Linked DNA regions of Homo sapiens. The protein of the gene in region 1 purifies or fractionates together with the protein of each later gene. This does not show direct contact. Each region holds a gene or a part of one and is shown in the gene's direction. Other genes may lie near its edges.

Evidence for each region. Proteins that work in one complex are often made in the same cells at the same time.
Region 2: the proteins of PHF6 (region 1) and TMA16 purify together in Homo sapiens (affinity purification with mass spectrometry, with the first as the bait; one large-scale study listed by BioGRID). This does not show direct contact.
Region 3: the proteins of PHF6 (region 1) and ARID2 purify together in Homo sapiens (affinity purification with western blotting, with the first as the bait; one study listed by BioGRID). This does not show direct contact.
Region 4: the proteins of PHF6 (region 1) and PIP4K2A purify together in Homo sapiens (affinity purification with mass spectrometry, with the first as the bait; one large-scale study listed by BioGRID). This does not show direct contact.

What each region holds. Positions count from the first base shown.
Region 1 is NC_000023.11:134,393,811-134,397,682, forward strand, and holds part of PHF6 (PHD finger protein 6), read left to right. Parts: intron 1-98; coding exon 99-142; intron 143-3,872.
Region 2 is NC_000004.12:163,504,474-163,508,345, forward strand, and holds part of TMA16 (translation machinery-associated protein 16), read left to right. Parts: intron 1-2,559; coding exon 2,560-2,672; intron 2,673-3,872. UniProt on the Homo sapiens protein: Involved in the biogenesis of the 60S ribosomal subunit in the nucleus.
Region 3 is NC_000012.12:45,844,490-45,848,361, forward strand, and holds part of ARID2 (AT-rich interactive domain-containing protein 2), read left to right. Parts: intron 1-942; exon of another isoform or gene 943-1,051; intron 1,052-2,366; coding exon 2,367-2,448; intron 2,449-3,872. UniProt on the Homo sapiens protein: Involved in transcriptional activation and repression of select genes by chromatin remodeling (alteration of DNA-nucleosome topology). Required for the stability of the SWI/SNF chromatin remodeling complex SWI/SNF-B (PBAF).
Region 4 is NC_000010.11:22,704,423-22,708,294, reverse strand, and holds part of PIP4K2A (phosphatidylinositol 5-phosphate 4-kinase type-2 alpha), read left to right. Parts: intron 1-2,869; exon of another isoform or gene 2,870-3,872. UniProt on the Homo sapiens protein: Catalyzes the phosphorylation of phosphatidylinositol 5-phosphate (PtdIns5P) on the fourth hydroxyl of the myo-inositol ring, to form phosphatidylinositol 4,5-bisphosphate (PtdIns(4,5)P2). Has both ATP- and GTP-dependent kinase activities.

The sequences.
Region 1 (3,872 bases):
CTAGTGAATTGGGTGAAGTGTACTGCTCGTTTTCTTAATTTGAAAAGTGAGTTTAATTTAGTTTGCTTACTAATTTTTGATTTCTTCATTTTTTATAGGGTCTATTGCCGAAAACACAAGAAAACTGCACATAACTCCGAAGGTACATCATTTAGCCACGTTTCAGCCACTTTTCAGTTTCAAGAAGAAATTTGAGTACAGATTAGTGAATTATACTATATTAATTTTAACCATAAGACATATCTCAACATTCAGTACATTTAGAAGAATTGAGAAAAGTGTTAGGATAAACTAATGTGCATAGTGAAAAAGATCTGAACTTCTTTTTTTTTTTTTTTCCTGAAACGAAGTCTTGCTCTGTCGCCCAGGCTGGAGTACAGTGGTGTGATCACAGCTTACTGCAACCTCTACCTTTCAGGTTCGAGCAATTTTCCTGCCTCAGCCTCCTGAGTAGCTGGGATTACAGACGTGCACTGCAATGCCCAGCTAATTTTTGTATTTTTAATAGAGATGGGGTTTCACTGTGTTGGCCAGGCTGGTCTTGAACTCTTGACCTCGTGATCCACCTGCCTCAGCCTCCCAAAGTGCTGGGATTACAGGCGTGAGCCATCGTGCCCGACCAAGATCTGAACTTTTAAGAAAACTTTTACCCCAAAGTCCTTGTAAAGTATATGCTGAAAATCTATCTTTAGTAAGAAATTATGCTGGTGGCTGCGTGTTTCATTTCTTTGTGTTTTTTTTTTTTTGTGAGACAGAGTCTCGCTGTGTTGCCCAGGCTGGAGTGCAGTGGCGTGATCTTGGCTCACTGCAAGCTCCGCCTCCCGGGTTCACATCATTCTCTGCCTCAGCCTCCCGAGTAGCTGGGACTACAGGTGCCCGCCACCACGCCTGGCTAATTTTTTGTATTTTTAGTAGAGATGGGGTTTCACCGTGTTAGCCAGGATGGTCTTGATCTCTTGACCTCGTGATCCGCCTGCCTTGGCCTCCCAAAGTGCTGGGATTACAGGCGTGAGCCACTGCGCCCGGCCTCGTTTCTTTTCTGTTTTCTTTTTCTTTTTTTTTTTTGAGACGGAATCTCGCTCTGTTGCCCAGAGTGCAGTGGCACAATCTCGGCTCACTGCAACCTCTGCCTCCTGGGTTCAAGCGATTCTCCTGCCTCGGCCTCCTGAGTAGCTGGGATTACAAGCACCCGCCACTACGCTTGGCTAATTTTTGTATGTTTAGTAGAGACGGGATTTCACCATGTTGGCCAGGCTGGTCTGGAACTCCTGACCTCAGGTGATCCACTCACCTCGGCCTCCCAAAGTGCTGGGATTACAGGCGTGAGCCACTGTGCTCGGCCAGCTGCGTGTTTCTTTAAGGATGATAAATGGGATCCTTGATACTGTCATATTATAAATGATGTGAGCTTGGTAATAGTAGTACATTTTGTGATCACCAGGCTTTCTGTTATATTTTTATTCACATCTGTAGTACTTTAAAAAATGCCAATGTGTTAATAAGTAACCAAATTTAAAATACAAACTTTAAAAATTATTTAATAGTTTGTTTCTACTTAAATTTATATAAAACCAGGTTAGTCATGTTTATATATAGTTAGCCAAGTTGAACTTGGTCTGTAAAAAGTATGCGAAAACTCTGATACTGAGTTCTGACTTGTTTCAAACCTTTTCAAACAGATGGTTTTGATACTTTTACTAGCAATATAAAATGGCTTAGATGTAATCTGCGATTGTTCTATCCCTTCATTTAGATTAGAGATCTTTAAAATTTTTGTTCGCTTTTGAGAATATGTTGCTTAGAATTATAATGGTTTGAGCACTGTTGTTTTAGGAAGCTGTTTCTTTTATGAAGATTTACCTAATTATTGGTATTCGCATGTTAAAATTGGTGGCCCTTTTTGATCTCTAGATCTTGGCTTTTATAATACAAAACAATATAGTTTCCACTTCTGGACTCGAGATTAGTCCAGATACTTTAAAGTGTTGGTTAAAAATACAGTCGTTAGCAAAATCTAGTCTTTAAGGTAAACATGCTGGATAAATAATAATTTTTTTGAGGTGATAAAATATGACGGAAAAAACCTTAGTAGTGCTTTTCTTCTGTTTTCTCCTCACTGAATTCTAGAATTGAATTGGAAAATCCTTTGTGAAAGATTGAGTACGCTTTTCCACCTTCCATTATTTCAGATTTTAACAGTGCATTTATTTCATTCTCTTTAAGACTGTAGTGGCCCTATATGGTTTTTTTCTTAATCTATTTTTAATTTTTGTGAGTACAGAGTAGGTGTGTATTTATGGGGTACATGAGATATTTTGATACAGGCACACAATGTGAAATAAGTACATCATGGAGAATGGGGTATCCATCCCTATTTCAAACAATCCAAGTTAAGCTGAGGATTGAGACTATGTTATGCTGTATGTTAAGCTGAGAATTGAGACTCATGATCTGATGAATACAAGTATGAGCACACTGAGACAGGATATTTGAGATAATTAAGAAGGATGATTAATATATACTGATTATGTAGATAGCTCCCATTTTATTCCCTGGATTTCTGAAGCTGACAGTACCATCTAGTGGTAGGGAGAAGTCACTGCAAACTATATAAAGTAGAATAATTTTGGCCATGTTTTAGCACTGTGACACTTAATAGAGATCTAAATTCATACTTTTCAAGACAACTTTTCTTTTACTGTAACTGGCAGCATTATTATAACTTCAGATTTGTGCTACAATTAATTTGAATTTGGGATTCGATGTGTACGTCTATAGAACAATGGGCGGGGGGCTTGTATCATTTTTATATATAGTGTGTTTATACTCATTGTGGACCTTGAAAGAATAATTTTATAATTTAAAGTATTAAAGCTTTATATTTATTGATTTCTGGCTTTTATCACATTGATCTAGCTCAAATTTAGTTGATTTTGAGTGCTTTGTCAGAAACAGAACTTCCAATTATTCCATTGTTCTAATGGGAAACATATGTTCTCCTTTACGATCATGGTTTATGATGGGAGGTTATAGGATTGTATTTCAGGGACTGTCTTTTAAGAATTGTACTGCACTAAAAAAAAAAAAAAAAGAATTGTACTGCACTAGTCTCCAGAACAAAGATGAATTAATATCTATGGTAATGTCTTGGTCATTTGCCATCTGTGGCTCAATACTTACTTTGCTAATACTTAATATGATAAATGCTATTAATATATAATTCATTCTGCCATGTTAGCTTTATATAAAATGAGCTGTTTTGAAATATTAAATTTGAGAATAATTGCATAATATAGCAATTCAATTTTCCCATCACAAATAAAATATTATTGAATATTAAATACCTAAAACCTATGTCATCAGTTTTGCTTCAGGAAAAAATGGACTGTGAATTTGAAAAGCAATTTTAAAAATCTATATGGAGTTTATAACTATCATTATGTCACTAGGTTATTAGAATGCCCGTCCCAGGAACTGTATGTATTTACCTGTTAGTGGTGATGGGCTTAGATAAGTTGCCTATAAAATGATTCGAAACATATAAGAAAGCATTTCTGGGCTGGCACGGTGGCTCACTCCTGTAATCCCAGCACTTTGGGAGGCCAAGGCTGGTGGATCACCTGAGGTCAGGAGTTGGAGACCAGCCTGGCCAACATGGTGAAACCCCGTCTCTACTAAAAATACAAAAATTAGCTGGGTATGGTGGCACACATCTGTAATCCCAGCTACTCAGGAGGCTGAAGCGGGAGAATTGCTTGAACCCAGGAGGCGGAGGTTGCAGTGAACTGAGATTACGCCATTTGCACTCCAGCCTGGGTGACAGAGCAAGACTTGGTCTCCAAAATAAAAAGAAAGCATTTCTGATAAAAAAA
Region 2 (3,872 bases), on another chromosome or scaffold:
CAGCTGCGGAGAGTCTACTTCTTTTTGTTGTTGTTTTGTTTTGAGGCAGAGTCTGACCCTGTTGCCCAGGCTAGAGTGCAGTGGTGCCATCTATGCTCGCTGCAGTCTCCACCTCCGTAGTTCAAGCTATCCTCCCACCTCAGCCTCTTGAATAGATGGGATTACAGGCATGTGTCACCACACCCAGCACATTTTTATATTTTTAGTAGAGATGGAGTTTTGCTATGTTGGCCAGGCTGGACTTGAACTCCAGGCCACAAGTGATTCCACCTGCCTCAGCCTCCCAGAGTGCTGGGATTACAGGCATGAGCCACCATGCTTGGCTGAGGATCTGCCTCTAAGCTTGCTGTTGGTAGGATTGTTAAGCTGGTTCTTGGTAGGATTCAGCTCCTCGTGGACTGTTGAACTGCAGGCCTCACTTCTTCACTAGCTGTTGTCTGGAGGCCTCCCTCAGTTATTTGTCATGTGGCCCCTCCATATGGCAGCTCACTACAGGACAGCTGGTTTCCATGAGAGGGGGAAAGATGGAAGCCAGACTTCTTTGATAACCTAATCTCAGAATTGGCATTTCATTGCTTTTGCTAAATGCTCTTCATTAAAAGTGAGTCGGTAGGTCCAGCCCACATTCAAAAGGAGGGGATTCCATAAGGGCATGAGGATCAGGAGGTGGGGTTTATTGGGTCCATCTTAGAGGCAGCCTGCCAAATGTCCTGAAAGTTTTTACTTGATTCATGTTTGCTAGGTACTTTAATCTCAAAAATTCCTCATTACACCTGCCTTTCTCCTCTGCACTTGCCATGTGAGCAGAGAGATACATAAAAGAGTACATATACTCTTATATGATGGTTCTACATATTTTCCTATACCTGTAACCAACTTCCAGTGATACCTTAAGATTCAGATGTGGATATATCTTCTCAGGTTTATCAGAAAGCGAGCAGAGCGCTCAATGAGTGTTGAAAGAATGAATATATTTGTGAATGAGGAATTTGTGGTTATTTTAAATAGTTCTGCCTAGTTTTACAAAGGAAGTAATTTTGAACTGCATCTTATCAAAGGGCAAGTAAAGTATTTTGCAGGCAGAGGTAATAACAAGTGCAGTCTCAAGAAGTTATGAAATAGCTTGGTATGTTCTGGAATGGTGAGAAGTTCAGTAAGAATGGCGTGAAGAATCTTTTATAGAGGAGCATGGGAAATAATGGTGGAGAAGCAGGTTGGGGCTAGATTGTTTCTGTGCTAAAGACTTGGGACCTAACTGTGAGCTAGTAGAGCACTTTAAGCAGGGGAGAGGGACTTTACTATATTAGTGTTTTATGAAGACAAGCTCTGTAGCTTTGCCGAAGAAAGGACTAGTGGGGAGAATCTAAAGACTATCCTGATTATGAAAGATTCTGAGGATTGAATTAAGCAATTGACAATAATTTTGAAGAAGAGTGTAAAGCCACTTGGCCTTTTTCTGGAATAGGTATGTTGGAGACTGCCAGCTGTCCCCTAATGTATTCTTTCTGTTTTTCTATATGAATGGATCTTTTTCTCACAGAATAAGGATTATATTTACTACTCTCCCTTATGTAACACTGTGAATAAATTTTGGTCAGTGGGATGTGAGCAAAAGGATCTGCAACTTCCCAGGTCATGCTCTTAAAAAAAGGGGATGTACCTTCAGATTTTTCTTTTCCTACTTCATACTGGCTTGAGTGTAGACCTGGTATTAGGCTGTCTTGAACTAGATAGGAGGTATAGCCTGAGGCTAGTAGACAAAAAAATGGAAGGATCCTGGATCCCTAAGGGCTTTGTGGAACAGAACCTTCAGCTCCTACTTTTAACAATAAAGAACCAAACTTAAGCTGGGTTATGCCATTATTTGGGGTTTTTATTACAGAGAGCCAAATATGATTCCTAGATCATTATAGGTGAGGTAAGATACAGGATTATGTAGGAATAAAAGAAACCTGAGATGTCTAGTTTGGAGGACCTAATGAATTGTGGGCTGATTAACTGGCATAAGGCTTCAGTGGGAAAATGATACATTTTTCCTTTTGGATATACTAATTTTGAGATGGCTTCTATTATTTTCTCTATTCCTAATTTGTACAGGCAATGAGCCCAGCTTTGATTTTGCATGATTCATTGCCCGCTTTGTTCCATGTGAAACATCTACAATCAAGCCCCTACTAATAATCCAAGTCCCTTCTGACCCCTTAATTTTCTTAACTGTAACAAATTTCTGGCTGTGAGTCTCCTCACTATCTGTAGTCCCTGTATCTTCTTTGAAGATAGAACATGTTGTTGAAGAGCTGAGTTTATTGACTCCTTCTGTGCCTTTCTTCTGTCATTGGAGAGCACCTCTGAATATATCGTTTCTGTCATTACCATGGCAACAGATTATTAGAATTATTTAATGATCCTGGCTTATCTCCTGATTTTTCTTGTAATAGTTTTAGCTTACTGTATTTCTGTCATATTACTGTTTTTAAAATTTATTTGTAAAGAATATTTTTGGGACTGAAGGCACTTACATATCTGACTATATGTGTCATGTGTTTTCATACATTTTAGCCCAAAGCACCAAAGGGAAAAAGTGCAGGACGGGAAAAAAAAGTCATCCATCCATATAGTAGAAAAGCAGCTCAAATTACGAGAGAGGCCCACAAACAAGAAAAAAAGGAAAAGTAAGTATCTTTTCATCATTTGTATTACTCGTTGGTAAAAAGCCCCTTTATACTTTTATCTTTCAAACATATATCCTTTCACAGTATTGTCTCCCTTTCATAAATATTTATTAAGTGTGTTCTGTATGCAGAGGGTGAAACTGAACAAGGACTCTACTCTTTTAGAGCTTACCTAAAACAGATAAGTAATTTATGTAGCAGTAGGTGATGAGTGCCATGAAAAATTTAAAAAGTTATGGGATGGACAGTGAGGGAGAAGTTGTTTTACGTGGGATAGTCATGGAAGCCTTCTCTGAAGAAGTTACATTTGAACAGAGAGTTGAAAAATGTGAGGTCTGTATATAAGGCATGTAGGTTAAAGTGCCCATGAGACATGTAAGAGGAGATATGGAATGGATAGTTAGATATGTTGAGTCTAGTGTTCAGAGAATAGGTTAGGGGTATTGACACAAATTTGGGAGCGATCAGCATCCATGTGGGATTTCAAGCCGTGAGACTGGATAGGATCAGTTCACCTAAGGAGTAACTGTTGACAGGAAAGAGAAGAGAGCCAATTACTGAGTTCAGTGGCCCTCTACCATTTAGAGGTTAGGAAAAGAAGGAGCATTCCACAAGTGAGACTGAGAAGGAGGAGAAAGAAGGCTGTTTCAAAGATTCCTTAAAATGAAGTGAAGTTCAAATAAACATCATCGTTTTGACTATTTTAGAATGCCCTTGCCATTTTCATGAATGTTAGATACATTTGCATACCAGATAATGGAAGCCAGTATATTTTTAAATGTTGATTCTTTGCTTAAGATAAGCTTTATATAGTAAAGGTTACCTGTTTCACAGTGATTTGGCTAGAAGGAAATAAGTGTTGTGATAGCAGAGTCAAATTTTCTTTATTTTCTGCAGGGTAGTTTTTTATTTTTTTCAACATAAAGATTTACTGTGATGATAGCAGTTTTGCTTTAGCACAGTAGTTTTCAAACTTCAGCTATTTATGCATCACTTTTATGATTTTTGCTGTATCTTTTTAATATGATTTATTAGTACTGTGATTTTGCAGTTTCTGCTCTCATATATATCAGTATTTTGCAAACTTAAGTACATGAAATACATCTGTAGAACTTATTAAAACTGTTTGTTCCAACCCCTAGAATTTTCTATTCTGAAGGTTTGGGTTTCTGGCTTAAGGGTTTCCACTTCCAACAAGTC
Region 3 (3,872 bases), on another chromosome or scaffold:
TTCTAATGCCCAACTTTGCCCTCAATTGTAATATGTAAAATACTGGTATTGACAGGAAGCTATACCAATAATACCTTGGTTAAGAGGCTTCATGGATACTAATGTTTCTAATTCTCTCTTTAGTGTTCCACGTTACACTATAACAATAATAATAGTAGCTAGCGTTTATATAGTGCTTACTTTGTGCTAGGCATTATTTTAAGTGACTTGCACATAATCTAATCCTTATAGCAACATACGAGGTTAGTGTACTGTTACTTTCCTCCATTGTATGGACAGAGTTATTTTGCTCATAGTTACACAGCTAGCTAGTGAGTGATGGAATTCTCTGGCTCTGGATTTATGCATTTAACCATAATGCATAATCCTGCAGAGCTATCAAAGATGGGTGAGAATTAAGTCATTTGATTCCAAAATGAGAGAAAAAATTATCAAAGAGGAGGTGATATTCTCATGCAAAGCAGTTTTAGGAAGAATACATAAGAAAGTTGAGTATCTGGAAATTGATTCAAAGTATAAGCACCTTCATTTAGAATGTCTTCAGGTATCCTGAGGGCAGTGCTCCTCAGTTTGTGGCTACTTTTTATAGTAATTATGTTTCCAGTTTAAATTCCCATTTGTGATTTTATTCCTCTTTCTACATTGTTTATAAAGACTTCTCATGATTTCAACGTAATTTCTAGTGTTTCATGAAATTGATTGCTAATTCATTCAGGAAATTTCAGTCTAAGTAGGGTATGCTCTTTCATAGTAGAGATGATAAAGGGAGGAAGATTTCTACACAGTTTCAGGCCCTAGAAAGTATTTTCTGTATTAATATCGTCAACTTAGAAGGGGAAGAAAAGATAAGCTAGGATTGCCAACAGGAAAAATTATTTTTGTTCTAACTGTTGCATTATCTCAAGGAGCATATAATAGTATGGCCTCTAAAATGTGACAGACCTGGATTCAAATCCAACACTTTTAAAAGAAGTCCTTCCAAGTATACCCAGCTCTGCTATCTCCACCGTGTTCCTGGCTGAACTTAATCTCTGAGCTTTAGTTTTCTGATCTGTAAAATAGGTATAATTAAACTTAGACTTAAAAGATTAAAATATATAATGTAAATATAAATGGATTTATACAGAGTATATGTTTATTAAATGGCTACAATTAGCTGTTACCTCAAAGAAAGCATGGGGCATTCATCAAAGGTTATGATTGCCTCAGATCATTCACACATTTGGCTGTACTATGGAGCTTGCCTAGTTCCAATAATTTTAAAATGCATTTGTTCTGTTTGAGGGTTCTGAGAAGCTTTGCTAAAATATCATCTGAAAAAAATTGTGTATAATCTGTGTGCTTAAAAACTACATTGCCGTGTCACATAGCAAGTTTTCTAAAAACCTACAAAGTAATGCTGATCAATAGTGAAAAAAGGATAATTAATTTTTATTTACAAATATATGATTCAGACTTATAATTTATAATATGACTTTATACTTTTCATGTTTTCCTTAGTTCCTTTGTATAACATAGGGGAGAAGAAAAGGTAACATACATCATTTTTCTACAGATCTCTTCAACATGTTAGAAAATAATAGGTGATTTACTCATTTATTCATTGACCTTGAAACTTTTAGAATATGTCATAGATGCAACTTTAGAAAGTATGTGTCTTAAGATTAATAGCTAGTACATTTGTATACAACCAGGTTGCCTCTTTCAGGAAAAAAGTATAATTCAAATTTATTATTACAACAGATATCTTCTTTTTTTCTTCCCCAGAAAAATTATGGAAATCCTTTTTTGAATATGGGACTTTAAATTAGTTCAGCTTTTGTTCACTGTATTCCAAAAATTTTATATATGCCACTTACAGAGTTATTAATCTTTTAAATTAGGGAGTGAAGCCATAATTTCAGCTGCGTTCTGCTTCCGTAGCTAAACGGAAAGATGCTCAACTTACGTGTTGAACTGTATGACCCTGGGCCAGTTTTTTAAATCACTTTGAGTCTCAGTTTTCTTATCTGTACCTACCTCACAGAAGAATTAAGTAAGCAGATATTGTAAAGTATTTAGTTCAGTGTCTTGCCCATGGGAATAACAGAGGTTATATTAACTAAATCATCCATATTAATTGTTATTATTTTAATGATTGTGAGGTTAAACAAAATAGTTCATATGAATCCTCTAAGACAGTGCCTGGTATGATATGTGCTCCATTATATATTAGGTTTGTTCTCAAATGTGTATACTTTCATATGTTTATACACCTTTTAAAAAGGTATTCATTGTGTTAATGGGTTCAATATCCATAAAAAAAAGTATGGCAAATAGTGACTAACTTTTAAGAAATGATGTAGCTAATGTATTTTTTTCTTTAGCTTCCAGAGCAGTTGTAGCGCAGCATGTTGCTCCACCTCCAGGAATAGTGGAAATAGATAGTGAGAAGTTTGCTTGTCAGTGGTAAGTGGTTTATTTCTATTAAGGATTTATCCTTGGGAGGAGTAAAGCAAAGAAAAAAAGGAAATGTATTCTACAGACATCCAGAATGTTTTGTTCTGTATTCCTTTTTAGTTAGAGTAGAATATCATTTACACAAAGAAAGGACACTTTAAAATCCCCTTGTATATTGGAATAATTTGAAAGAAAAATATTCATCAGAATTTTCAGAATTAAAATAGTATGACTAGAATGTCATTAAATTACACCATTTAACTTTTTTCAGAGTAAAATTTGTGTTAAAAAGTTATCTTTCACTTTGTAGAAAGTACAGTTTGTCAGGTTACAAAATTTGTTCTTCTAAAATTAACATTTTGTTAAAACTGAATTGGACTGACCTTAAGAAAATAAAAGCAGGTGTTTTAAAATGTCTCTTCTCTTCCATCTAAAACAAAACTTCTTATTCTTTAATAATTTTTGGGTTTGTAATAGTAGACGGACATTAATCAAATGATAGAACAGAAATAAGCAGCTTGACAATAATATTTCCTTGAAAAGATTGTGTAGTCCTATCTGCACCACTTTCTGAAAAAAAGCAAATGAAGAGTTTTAAAAATTTCACTTGTTATGGATAGTTGCCTCAACATTAGTATGAAGTTCGGCTTAAATTCTTTAGAAGATTAACAGATTGAATTACACAATCACTTTCCAATGATATATCACTTTAAAAATTTCTTGATCACTTTTCTGCCATTCACTAACATTATTTGTCTCCCATTTCATGCTCCTGTCACTCTTTGTTCCGTATTTTTGGTGCTTTCAATACATTTTTGTTCCTATGACAGTTTTCTCCAGACTTTTCTACTTTGCTTAAATCGGGTTTATGGTTTTAAATATCTCTAATTGTTTGCTTTTTCCTCACCTTCTATATTTTTACACATTGGCCCCTTACACTTGAATCTTTTCCAGTAATATTTGGAAATGTTGTTTGTCTTCTACATTGCAACCAAAATGAAGTTTTTATATCTAGTCTTTTTGAAATTTCAGTACAGACAGGATTATGAAAGTTGGAAAGAATACACACCATAACCACTATAAAATGTGTATGTGTTAAGCATAGATTTGGTCTTATAAATCCCAGTTGCACGTTTCTGCTATTTCTTGGAGAGGGGGAAGAGAATCATTTTACAGTTTTTTTTTTAAATCATAATTACTATTTGATTTAGTTTTTCAGAAAAACTAAGTTTAGCCTATTATACATAGTGAGTTATGGAAAGAGCCTATCAGGGTAATCAGGCCTCCAATCCCAATTTATAGGTAAAGGTCATTTTAAGAAAAAGACAAAATGAGGTTTGAATTAGTTTGTAATGGATTACAAATTAAAACTGTTTTGAAATGGGGAAATGGGAGTGTGCAGCATGGAAAGTGTCATTGTTTTAGGAAGTAGC
Region 4 (3,872 bases), on another chromosome or scaffold:
GGTCGGCACAATTAGATGTTCCCAAGTGCTTGAAAGTCATGGCTGTGCTTGTGGTTGATTGCGGGTGGCTGTGAAAGCTTAAAGACTTAAGGAGTGAATGAGTGGAAGTAGAGGCAATTCCTCTTTTTTGGAAGGTAAGTAGAAGGAAGGTGAAAGATGCCATTTTGTTAGGAATCCCTGGGGAGTTTCCTTGAATCCGTCTCTTCGTTTCCATTCTCACTTCTGTCACTCCTAACCAGATTTGTTTCCCTCTTTCCTAGACTGATATTAAACCCCCCTAGCTTATTTCCCTGTGTCTGCCTTTATCCTCATTTCTTTTCTTTTTTGTACTAGGAACTCCTATGGCAGTCCAGTGAAGGCCATAGACTCCTCAGAATGAGGCTTTTAAAGGAATAAATGAAAATACAGAGGATATGTCCTAGCAAGTTCAAGGATCCTTTTAATTCTATCCATGGACCACTTGGGAGTTCATGGAACCCCATCAAGAACCCTTGCAAGAATAAGATGGGGATAGTGTGGGGTGAGAAAGTGGGGAGAGCACGCAGCAGCCAGGAAGAATTCTTGGGGGGGAACACGCATAGGCTGAATTGATTACCCGCCTGGGTCACAGTGCCTAGTACTTGGGATTCACAACGGTACCGTTAACCACTGAGCTGTGCTGCCTGGGCCAAGCTCAGGAATCATTCATTTCTTTGAGTTCTTTTATTTTCTTAGTCTTAAGAGCTGTTCTTCTTGGATGGACAGAGTATTAGCTGTTAACATGGGAGAAAACTACTTGAAAACCAGTTTTTCCCTTCATAGAAAGAAAATCATTGTTAATGTTCAGAGCATGTAGGGAGAGAACCAGTACATAATTTATTTAAGAAAAATGTTGTAGGGAGTTTTAAAACAGTAACTTACCTAAAGCTAAGCCTCACAATTCTAAATCTTTATAGTTTTTCAGCTACCTGGGCACAGTGATTAAGAGCTCTGGAGTCCTTGTTCGGTTGGCTATGTGACCTTGAACAAGTTATTTTGCCTCTCAGTTCCTTGATTATAAAAGGAGGTAATAATGGTACCTACTTTGGAAGTTTGTTATATGGATTAAATCAATTCATACTTGTAAGATGCCTAAATAGTTGCTGGCACATGGTAAGTTCTTAATGTGCTAGCTGTCATTATTACTATCCTTTAAAATAGAGACAGGGTCTTGCTGTATTGGCCAGGCTGGTCTCAAACTTCTGACCTCAAGCAATCCTCTCACCTCAGCCTCCCAAAGTGCTGGAAATAGAGCCTTGAGCCACCATGCCTATCCTATTTTTTTTTTTAATATCTTAAATGCTAAGAGGTAGCAAATTATCAGATTGTATGCTAAATCAATGGTTACTTTATCCTGTTTTGTAGTAGAACATCATCGTTGTTCTTGGCATCCTTGTGTATTTTTGAGTTATGAATTATCATTTTAGAATTACCCTTGTGCCCTTGCTTTGCTTTCTGTATCTATTTTGTTATGTTCTTTCTTGTATTTTTCACACTTCCACTAGCGATTAGGTTCTTTGAAGTGTCAGAAATCTAATTCACATCCATTAGTTGCAAGTTATGTCAGCTATTGACTTGATATTTCACCTTGTCTTTAAATATGGAGACACTGCAAGATGCTTCAGATGCAAAATGAATATATTGTGGACCTTGCTCTCAAATTGTGCATAACTACAGGGGACACAGACGTAAAATAAATATATGTGTAAATAACTACAGTGTCCAGAATGCTAGGGGTGGAAGGTATTAAATAGACCGTGCAGAACATTGAGCAAAGGCATGACGTCGGTGAAGGGCTTAGACATGAGGCAGTTTGGGAGAAGAGCATTTCAGGCGGAGGGGTCAGCTGGTGCAAAGGCCGTGAGGCTGGTGTTTGCTTGGCTTGTTATGGCAACTGCAGGAAAGCTGGCATGGCTGGAGCACAGCAAGAGGGGGATATAGTGGTAGGAGATCTGCCAAGGTGCTAACCAGGACTGGATCATGATTACTTCTGCCTGGGGGACTTGGAGAATCCTTGAGAGGAGGTAACAATGAGGAGGACCTTGAGGATTAGATAGAATCTCCCAGCTGCAGAAGATGGGTGATATGGTTTGGCTGTGTCCCCACTCAAATCTAATCTTGAATTGTACCCATAATCCCCAGGTGTTGTGGGTGGATCAGCTGGAGATAATTGAATCATGGGGGCAGTTTTCCCCATCGTATTCTCGTGATAGTTAGTTCTCACGAGACCTAATGATTTTAAATAAGGAGCTTCTCCTTTTGCTGGGTGTTCATTCTTCTGCTTGCTGCTGCCATGTGAAGAAGGATGTGTTTGCTTCCCCTTCTGCCATGATCGTAAGTTTCTTGAGGTCTCCCCAGCCCTGCAGAACTGAGTCAGTTAAACCTCTTTCCTTTATAAATTACCCAGTCTTGGGTATTTCTTCACAGCAGCGTGAGAACAGACTAATACAATGGGGAAAGGCATATGCAGCTGAGGGTCCGACAGCGGGCAAAACCAAGCAGAGCGGAGAATGTGAGTAGTTGGCTTTGGGTGTGGCCACAGTGGCAGAACCCAGTAACATGTTAGAAATGCAGAGCTTGGGCCTCTGCAGACCTGCTGGAGCAGAATGTACATTTTAACAAGACATGTTGATCGTCAGCATATTTAAGTCTGAGAAACACCCATCAGGGTAAATCTTTGGTTTCAAGCCCTGAGATTCCTTAGATGTGCCTCAGGGGCTGGTGGGAGGGGGCCAAGCTGGTGGGGGAATTTAGGCCTACCTCAGTTTCCTCCAGAACAGCCTTGTTTTTGTCCTCATTGTCATCTCTCTGTCCTTTTTTTTTTTTTTTTTTTTTTTTTTTTTTTTTTTTAACTGGGGTACTGAATATAATACGTAAAGGGGGTAAAAAAGATCCTGCAGCCAAGAAAATTGAAAACCACAGAGGAACATAAAGGGAGTGTCAGGAGATGGTTGAAAGAGTAGTTTGAGGCCACCTTTGAAGGGCCAAGTGGTTGATGTTTGCCAGAGAAAAGCCAGCAGTTCTGACCAGGGTTACTTTAAAATTTGCCACAAATCTCAAATGACACTCGACCCGGAAGTGTTACTGCCTCCTTTAATATGTTCTCCACTCTCTGAAGTCATTTCTTCCTTTTCACTTCTCCTTGAACTTCACCTAGTGTCCTGTCCCCCACTTCCCCCACCCCGTCCTTCCCTCAGCATATAACCTCATTTAGAAAGCATTGAACAAATAGAAGCCGTCAGCTTCCACTCTTCCCACCATCCCATCTAAATTTTGGACAGCTGGGTCCGTCAGTCTACAGACATGCTGGAGGGGCTGCCCTGCCTGGTTTTGTAGCTGCTAGCTATATATGGCAATTTAAATTTCAGCTAATAAAACTTAAAATTCAGTTTCTCATATCAAGTGCTCACTAGCCACATGTGGTTAGTGGTTACTGGATTGAACAGTGCAGATATAGACGATTCCCACCATTGCAGTGTCTTCCACTGACATGGCTCACCATTCCGGGGCCGCCCATCTTGAAAGCAAAATAAACTACAGTAACAGCAGAAGCTCTCCTTCACCCTTAGTCTCTCATTTTAGTGTCTTCTCGTGTTTTCTGTTCCTTTTTTTTTTTTTTTTTTTTCAGATGAGGTCTTGCTTTTTGGCCTGGGCTGGAGTGCATGGTGCAATCATGGCTCACTGCTGCCTCAAACTCCTGGTCTCAAGCAGTCCTGCTTCAGACTCCCTAAGTGCTGGGATTATACATGTGAGCTACCACACCTGCCCTGTTCCTTTTCATAGCAGGAGTGAAAAGCCTTGTCTAAAGCTGAGGTCTCCTATTTCTATAGAGACACCGTACCTGGCAACCGTCA